Regions from separate parts of the Homo sapiens genome. Here all the other regions are linked to region 1. The links come from fine-mapping of genetic effects on gene expression. A gene starts in region 1. Each other region holds a variant in brackets. All regions are shown on one strand. Distances are from middle to middle. Region 1 holds the start of CALML6 (calmodulin like 6). Region 2 overlaps GNB1 (G protein subunit beta 1). Region 3 overlaps NADK (NAD kinase).

What was found.
Region 2: its variant is fine-mapped to the expression of CALML6 in visceral fat (GTEx, PIP 0.98).
Region 3: its variant is fine-mapped to the expression of CALML6 in aorta (GTEx, PIP 0.98). The same link has a PIP of 0.9 or more in stomach.

Annotation. Positions count from the first base shown.
Region 1 is chr1:1,913,599-1,916,356 of GRCh38, forward strand. CALML6 (calmodulin like 6) reads left to right here and starts at 1,662. Exons shown (of 6, transcript NM_138705.4): 1 at 1,662-1,709; 2 at 2,087-2,137. The coding sequence starts at 1,683. RefSeq lists an enhancer at 483-1,169.
Region 2 is chr1:1,808,778-1,811,535 of GRCh38, forward strand. The region is part of intron 5 of GNB1 (G protein subunit beta 1); the gene reads right to left. Among named protein-coding and RNA genes, the nearest start is that of NADK, 32 kb to the left of the region's middle. The variant T/A (reference allele first, on the strand shown) is at 1,300.
Region 3 is chr1:1,773,046-1,775,803 of GRCh38, forward strand. All of the region lies in intron 1 of NADK (NAD kinase), which reads right to left. Among named protein-coding and RNA genes, the nearest start is that of NADK, 4.0 kb to the right of the region's middle. RefSeq lists an enhancer at 1,063-1,564. The variant T/C (reference allele first, on the strand shown) is at 1,461.

The DNA of each region.
Region 1 (2,758 bases):
CGCCATTCTCCTGCCTCAGCCTCCGGAGAAGCTGGGACTACAGGTGTCTACCACCACGCCTGGCTAATTTTTTTGTATTTTTTTTAGTACAGTCGGGGTTTCACTGTGTTAGCCAGGATGGTCTCGATCTCCTGACCTCGTGATCTGCCCGCCTCAGCCTCCCAAAGTGCTGGGATTACAGGCGTGAGCCACCGTGCCCAGCCTCTTTTTCTGTTTTCTTATGGAGAATAGCCCTTCGGTGATCAGAAGAGACACAAGAAGGAAAATAAAGATTGGATGAGTCTCAGGTCCTAGAGATACGGGGTATGTCCGAAGGCCACACAGAGGCTGGTCAGCATGAGGAGAGAGGGTTAGAGGGCGAGGACCTGTTCTGCTGCTTGTACTGGGTCTTGGATATGGGTAGAAGCCTAGATGGAGAGGAGAGAGGTTGATGGTGGTTGTGGCCATGTTGCCCCTTCCTACGGGCGGGGCGGGGGGTGTGCCCTCTGCTTTAAGTTGGGCTCCAGGGGTCACAGCTTTGAGTTTCACTCGTAAGCCCATCAGGATGTCTGGAACCTTCAGGGCTGTGGCCCAGGAATGTCAGACGCTGGAAGCCTGGGAACGGAGGAGGCAGAGCCTGCTGTCCACTGGCTGTGAGAGTTGTTGGGGTGGGGACTTGTCCAGGGCCACGAGGCCAGTGCAGTTCTCTGTGTCTCTGTACCCAGCTGGCCTGTACCTGGAGACCCTGAGCCAGAACCCAGGATGGGCCCTGGCCTGGGTGCTGCGGCTCCCTCCATTCTATGCCCCTGGGGGAAGGTGCTCAGTGCGTGAATTGTTCCCTGCCCCAGCCCAGGGGAAAGCTGAGGCCAGGGAGCAGCCAGGATGAAGGTCAGGGCCTCCCTTGGCCCCACCAGACCCAGGGCCGCTTCCCTCCAGCCCCGGCTCCCGTTTGGCTGGAGGTGCCCTGGGCCATTGGCCTGCCCTCGTCAGCGTCAATCTTGCAGTCTCAGCAGCTGGCCTGGGTTTCAGCGGGAGCCATCCTGTAGCTGCAGGTTTGCTGGCAGGCAGAGGGTTGGGCTGGCGGGGGACACTGAGTGCCCCACCTGCTCAGACTCTTCATGCCATCAAGGGGCCAGTCGGGGGGCAGGTGTGAGTGTGACCCTGAGGGCCCTGACCTGCCACTGCAATCCTCACACTCTTGCCTGGGTGGGGCAGGGAGGAGCTGGACCCTGGCTTTGGGAGTCTGGTGGGTAATTAGACCCAGACAGGGAGGGCTCAGTGCGGGTCTGAGGAGGGAACACACGTGTGCAGGCGTGTGCTCCACGGTGGCATGTTGATACGGACCAGCCTGGGCACCAGGCCCCCTCGGGAGCCAGCTTTGCTGTTCTGAGTGGAAGGGAGATCAGGTTTCCCTGAGAAACCCCAAAATAGCCCCCAACTGTGCCTGGCTTCCAGCGGGCAGCCCAGCCCCCAGGCCCTGTTTTGCTCCCTTTCCCCCTTCACCCCCAGCCCATGTCCTGCTGTCTCCTCCCTGAATGGTGGACCCTCAGCCCCTCCTGTACAAGATGGTCAAGCGGTGCCTCATGCATTTGTTCATTCGACCTGTCCTGAGAGTTTGTGACATGCTGGCACGGGGCCAATGTTGAGTCCACCAGGATGGGAGGGTGGCCAGGCTCTGAGCCACTGAGCACCAGCTGGCCAGGATGGGTCTTCAACAAGAAATCTCACTGGTAAGTGATGACAGCATGGGACCAGGGTCCCATGAAGACCTGCTGGAGGGCCGCACCTCTGGGAAGGTAGACTTGGAGCTTGGTCCAGTGAAGAGGGAACAGCACGGGGAACAGCGTGTGTGAGGGTCCCGCCATGTCTCAGCCCTTTCCTGGCCCCCGCACTTAGCCTTCGGTGCCCATCTTCAGGGTCAGGGGAAGCCCAGGCCAAAGCGGGCCGGGAAGGGGCCCTGTGGATAAGGCCGAGAGCCTGTCCCAAAATAGGGCCGGCAGGATTTCCCACCCATAAAAGGCTCTTGGAATCTGGACCCCGGGGACCCCAGGCAGCCAGGCCCAGCTAAAACTCAGCTGCCACCACTGCCCCAGCACTCTGCCCACAGCAGCCCTGGTGTCACCACCCTGCAGAATCCTGTCAGACAACCACCGACATGGTAAGGCTGCTCTCTGTGCCCGATGGAGTCTCTGGTGGGCTGGCTGGGTAGGTTGAGCTGGAACCTGGAGGTGCAATGACCTGCCACGGAGCCTGGGCAGGAAGGGGCTGAGGTAGAAGAGGGGGCCAAGCCCTGCTGCCACCAACACAGCCCTTGTTCCGGGGCCAGGGTGGAGCAGCCCTTTCTGAAAGCTGGCTCCCAGATGGGCAGCAGCAGTGGTGGCAGGCAGGTGTGGCCCGGTGCTGGACTCTCCCTCCGGAATGCCACACAGGCTGGAGCCCAGGGTTCTGCTTCCTGGGCTGTATCCCAATCCTGGGCTGGAAGCCTTTCCCGGGCCAGGGCTGGGCTCCTCCCCACCCTGCTCTCGGCTTCCTTCACCTGCCTCACCTGGTGTCCATTGCCAGGCTCCAGGGCCGCTGCCTGGCCCGCCTGGCCCTGCAGCTGCTGCTGTTCCCTCGCACGCTGGCTCCTGCCTGTCTGGCCCTTGCCCCTGTTAGCTGCCTGGCAGAGCCCTGCTGGCCCTGCAAACCCCTGGCGTGTGACCCCTTGTCCTGGAAGCCTGCTCTCCGCTGGGGGCCTCCTCTCTTACCACTCACCTTGAAAGGCTGCCAATGGAGGAAT
Region 2 (2,758 bases), 100 kb before region 1:
GGATTACAGGTACGTGCCACCACACCTGGCTAATTTTTGTATTTTTAGTAGAGATGGGGTTTCCCCATGTTACCCAGGCTGGTCTCCAACTCCTGGCCTCAAGTGATCCGCCCACCTTGGCCTCCCAAAGTGTTGGGATTACAGACATAAGCCACAGCGCCTCAAAACACAGGTTTTAACTATTTCAGCTGTGAACATATGTGGCTTCTTAAAGCTGACCTAAAGCTGGAGTAACGCTCTCTCAAGTTTTGTTGATAACTCTGACACTTTTAATATCAAACTAGATGTTTTGATACAGGTGTCAATGAGTTTAAGAACAAATAAAAACCTTTTCACCTGCACTTTATTACAAAATTTATCACAGAACTAAAAACTAAGTGCAGGCTCCCATCCTATTATTTTTCAGATGCAATTTTTTTTTTTTTTTTTTTTTTGAGAGAGAGTCTCACTCTGTCACCCAGGCTGGAGCTCGCTGCAACCTCTGCCTCCCAGATGCAAGCAATTCTCGTGCGTCAGCCTTCCCATTAGCTGGAATTACAGGTGTGCACCACCATGCCTGGCTACTTTTTTGTATTTTTAGTAGAGACAGGGTTTTGCCATGCTGGTCTCGAACTCCTGAGCTCAATCTGCCTGCCTCGGCTGGGATTACAGGCGTAAGCCACCGCACCCAGCCTTCAGTTGCAATTCTTAAAGCAAACTTCTCAATCCAGGTTGTCATCAACATATTAAACATTTAAAATTATTTCTACGTAATGGTATCATGTTCCCACTCTAGCTTTATTTCTGCCCAGCCCTTCTGAGACTTTCTGTCGAGTATCAGAGCTGATCTAAAGCAGCTCATCCTCCTAGATTAGGAGGATCACCTTTACAGAGGTCTCCCGGTCAGAGAGCTTAATAACTGCTGACTTCCAGAGGGATTAGGGACACGTAAGCTGTCCACTGATCCTCCAGAAGGTGAGAGAAGACATGCCTCCTAGTCCCGGGTCAGGGAGCTGTTGGAAAGCTGGGTTCACGTTGCCTAGTAGTGCCTTTACCTACTCAAAAATCAATTATCTGAGGTGCCACTCACCTAGAACATAGAGGCAAGGGCCAGGAAGCAAGCTAACAGGCTCCAGGACCCTGAAAGTAGCTGTCAAAAATCAAAACACCTAATGCCCTTCATTTTACTCAAAGGAGGGAGGGTGGTGGCTCATGCCTGTAACCCCAGCACTTTGGGAGGCTGAGATAAGAGGATTGGTTAAGTCCAGGAGTTTGAAACCAACATGGGCAACAAAGGGAGACCCTGTCTCCACAAAAAAA[T/A]ATATATATATATTTTTTGAGATGGAGTCTCGCTCTGTCACCCAGGCTGGAGGATCTCGGCTAACTGCAAGCTCTGCCTCCTGGGTTCATGCCATTCTCCTGCCTCAGCCTCCCAAATAGCTGGGACTACAGGCACCTGCCACCGCGCCTGGCTTATTTTTTGTATTTTTAGTTGAGACAGGGTTTCATTGAGTTAGCCAGGATGGTCTCGATCTCCTGACCTCGTGATCCGCCCACCTCAGCCTCCCAAAGTGCTGGGATTACAGGCCTGAGCCACCGCGCCCGGCCCACAAAAAATATTTTTTAAAAATTAGCTGGGCACAGTGATGTGCACCTGTGGTACCAGCTACTCAGGAGGCTGAGGCAGGAGGATTGCTTGAGCACAGCAGTTCAAGGCTTCAGTAAGCTAGGATCGCACCACTGCATTCTAGCCTGGACGACAGAGTGAGACCCAGTCTCAAAAAAAAAAAAAAAAAAAAAAAGTTGCCTTTTAGTACAAATATATTGATAAACATATTACAAATGTACATCTGATACATTAATACATACATACATAACAAGTAATCATTGTGGGCCTTGCATGTAGTTTTCTTTTTTGTTTGTTTTTTTGAGACAGAGTCTCACTCTGTCACCCAGGTTGGAGTGCAGTGGTGCAATCTTGGCTCACTGCAACCTCTGCCTCCTGGGTTCAAGCGATTATCCTGCCTCAGCCTCCTGAGTAGCTGGGATTACAGGCACCCACCATGAAGCCTAGTTAACTTTTGTATTTTTGGCAGAGACAGGGTTTCACCATATTGGGCAGGCTGGTCTCAAACTCCTGACCTCAGGTGATCCACCCGCCTTAGCCTCCCAAAGTGCTGGGATTATAGGCGTGAACCACGGTGCCTGGCCTCTCATGTAGCTTTATTTGTGTTTTGTTTTGTTTTTTGAGGCAGAGTCTCCATCCGTCACCCAGGCGGGAGTGCAATGCGCATGTTTGTGGGTATATATATACATATATATATATTTTTTTTTTTTTTCTTTTTTTGAGATGGAGTCTCACTCTGTTGCCCAGGCTGGAGTGCAGTGGTGTGATCTTGGCTCACTGCAACCTCCAGCTCCTGGGTTCAAGCGATTCTCCCACCTCAGCCTCTTGAGTGCAGCTGAAACTACAGGCACTCGCCACCACACCTGGCTAATTTTTGTATTTTTAGTAGAGATGGGGTTTCACCATGTCAGCCAGGCTGGTCTCGAACTCCTGAAGTCAAGCGATCCACCTGACTTGGCCTCCCAAAGTGCTGGGGTTACAGGTGTGAGCCACCGCGTCTAGCCTCATGTAGTTTTGAAAGACAAACTAGGCCGGGCACAGTGGCTCACCCCTGTAATCCCAGCACTTTGGGAGGCCGAGGCGAGCGGATCACGAGGTCATGAGATCGAGACCACCCTGGCTAACACGGTGAAATCCCGTCTCTACTAAAAA
Region 3 (2,758 bases), 140 kb before region 1:
AAAAAAAAAAAAAGATGTTAACACAGAGGGAGCTGGTGAAGGGCACAGGGGTCTCTCTGTACTATTTTTACAACTTCCTATGAATTAGTCTATGATTATTTTTTTTTTCCCCAGACGAAGTCTCGCTCTTGTCCCCCATGTTGGAGTGCAATGGCGCAATCTTGGCTCACTGCAACATCTGCCTCCAGGGTTCAAGCAATTCTCCTGCCTCAGCCTCCTGAGTAGCTGGGATTACAGGTGCCCGCCGCCACACCCGGCTAATTTTTGTATTTTAAGTAGAGATGGGGTTTCACCATGTTGACCAGGTTGGTCCTCAAACTCCTGACCTCAGGTGATCCGCCCGCCTCGGCCTCCCAAAGTGCTGGGATTACAGGTGTGAGCCACCGCACCCAGCCAATTATTTCAAAATAAACAGTTAATAAAGGTCAGACACAGTGGCTCACACTTGTAATCCCAGCACTTTGGGAGGCCGAAGCAGGGGAATCACCTGAAGCCAGGAATTGGAGACCAGCCTGGGCAACACAGCAAGACCCCGTCTCTACAAAAACATTAATAAAAAATAAACAAATCAAAATCACAAAATGTTAAAAAAAATGTATTATTACTGCTACATTACCTAGAAGCTCTATTTTGTGTGTGTGTGTGTGTGTGTGTGTGTGTGTGTGTGTGTGTGTGTGTGTGTGTGAGAGAGAGAGAGAAATAGAGATATTGAGAGACTGAGAGGTAGGGTCTTGCTCTGTCACCTAAGCTGGAGTGCAGTGGTGCAATTACAGCTTACTGCAGCCTCAATCTCCCAGGCTTAAGGGATCCTCCCATGTAGCTGAGACTACAGGCATGAGCCACTATGTCCAGCTAATTTTTAAATTTTTTGTAGAGACAGGGTCTCGCTACCTTGAACGGGCTGACCTTGAACTCCTGGGCTCTGGTGGCCCTCCTGTGTTGACCTCCCAAAGCATTGGGATTACAGGCATGAGCCACTGCACCCAGCCTAGAAGCTCTGTTCATATTTATTTGCGAAGATCAATTTGATGACTAAGCAGTAAACTAATTTATAAAATAATATTAAATATTAAAACCAACTTTAAACAATTATCTTCACCTATGTATGTGTGTGTGTGTATATATATACACACACACACACACATATATATATATTTAACAAGTATCTCCAATACCACAACCAGTGTATTTTTTGTTTTTTTGAGATGGAGCTTCGCTGATGTTGTCCAGGCTGGAGTGCAGTGGCGCGATCTCGGCTCACCGCAAACTCTGCCTCCCAGGTTCAAGCAATTCTCCTGCCTCAGCTTCCCAAGTAGCTGGGACTACAGGTGTGCGCCACCACGCCCAGCTAATTTTGTATTTTTAGTGGAGACCTGCCTCTTAATTCTCCAACATGGAGGGGTTTCTCCATGTTGGTCAGGCTGGTCTCAAACTCTCAACCTCAGATGATCCGCCCGCCT[T/C]GGCCTCCCAAAGTGCTGGGATTGCAGGCGTCGCCACCGCGCACGGCCACCATTATGCCTCGGCCTCCCACAGTGCTGGGATTACGGGCGTGGCCACTGCGCGCGGCCACCATTGTGCCTCGGCCTCCCACAGTGCTGGGATTGCAGGCGTGGCCACCGTGCGCGGTCACCACTGTATTTTTTGACAAGGGTGAGTCAGGACTGACACTTAATTCATTTGTTTGATATATTAACTGCTTTAAAAGGACACACAATGCTAGCTGCACCAAAGTGCATTCAAATTCCTCATAGCATGAATCTAATTTTAAAAAACCTTTGTAGGGCGGGCATGGTGGCTCACGACTGTAATCCCAGCATTTTGGGAGGCCGAGGCGGGCAGATCACGACATCAGGAGTTCAACACCAGCCTGGCCAAGATGGTGAAACTCCGTCTCTACTAAAAATACAAAAAAAATTAGCTGGGCGCGGTGGCAGGCGCCTGTCATCCCAGCTACTCAGGAGGCCGAGGCAGGAGAATCGCTTGAACCCAGGCGGCAGAGGTTGCAGTGAGCTGAGATCACGCCACTGCCCTCCAGCCTGGGGGACAGAGTGAGACTCCGCCTCAAAGAAAAAAAAAAAATCCTCTGTATTAGGAAGTTTTATTAGAAAAAAATACTAGAGCACAATAAGAAAATATTCATAACGAACTTATACAAAGTAGCAAGGAAAACATTAAGATGCCAATAAATAAATGTGCAAAGAACATGAACAAAAGTCACACACACACAAATACAAACATAATACACGAGTTCGTTCCCATGTAAGAACTCAATCAATATTTGTTGCAAGACTAAATGAAAAAGGAAAATTTATTTAGTGACAGAAATGGGGAAACATTCAACCTCAACCCTGAGTGGGAAAAAACTTACTGCCCACTAAATTACCCATCTCATCTCACCCCGGTAAATAATGCCCAGTGCTGGCATGCACACTGGCAGTATACAAACTGAGAAAGACTTTCTGGAAAGTGCTACAGCCATGTGACCACAGGGCTTCACCCTGTGACCTCATTAAACCTAAGCAGATTACAGGTCTGAAGGGGGCTTTCTTTAGATGTGGCTCCACCTACTTAGGGGCAGATGAAGAAAACAGGGGTCTGGGCAGTTCTGAATGGGAAGGCCAGGCATCACCTCCCTCTTCAGTTGCACAAAGTGTGCGTGGCATCCTCACATCCCATCTGCCTCAATTTCGCTTTTTCTCTGAACACTTTTCACCATCTGTCTGAAGCACACACACACATTTTATTCACTTCCCCATTC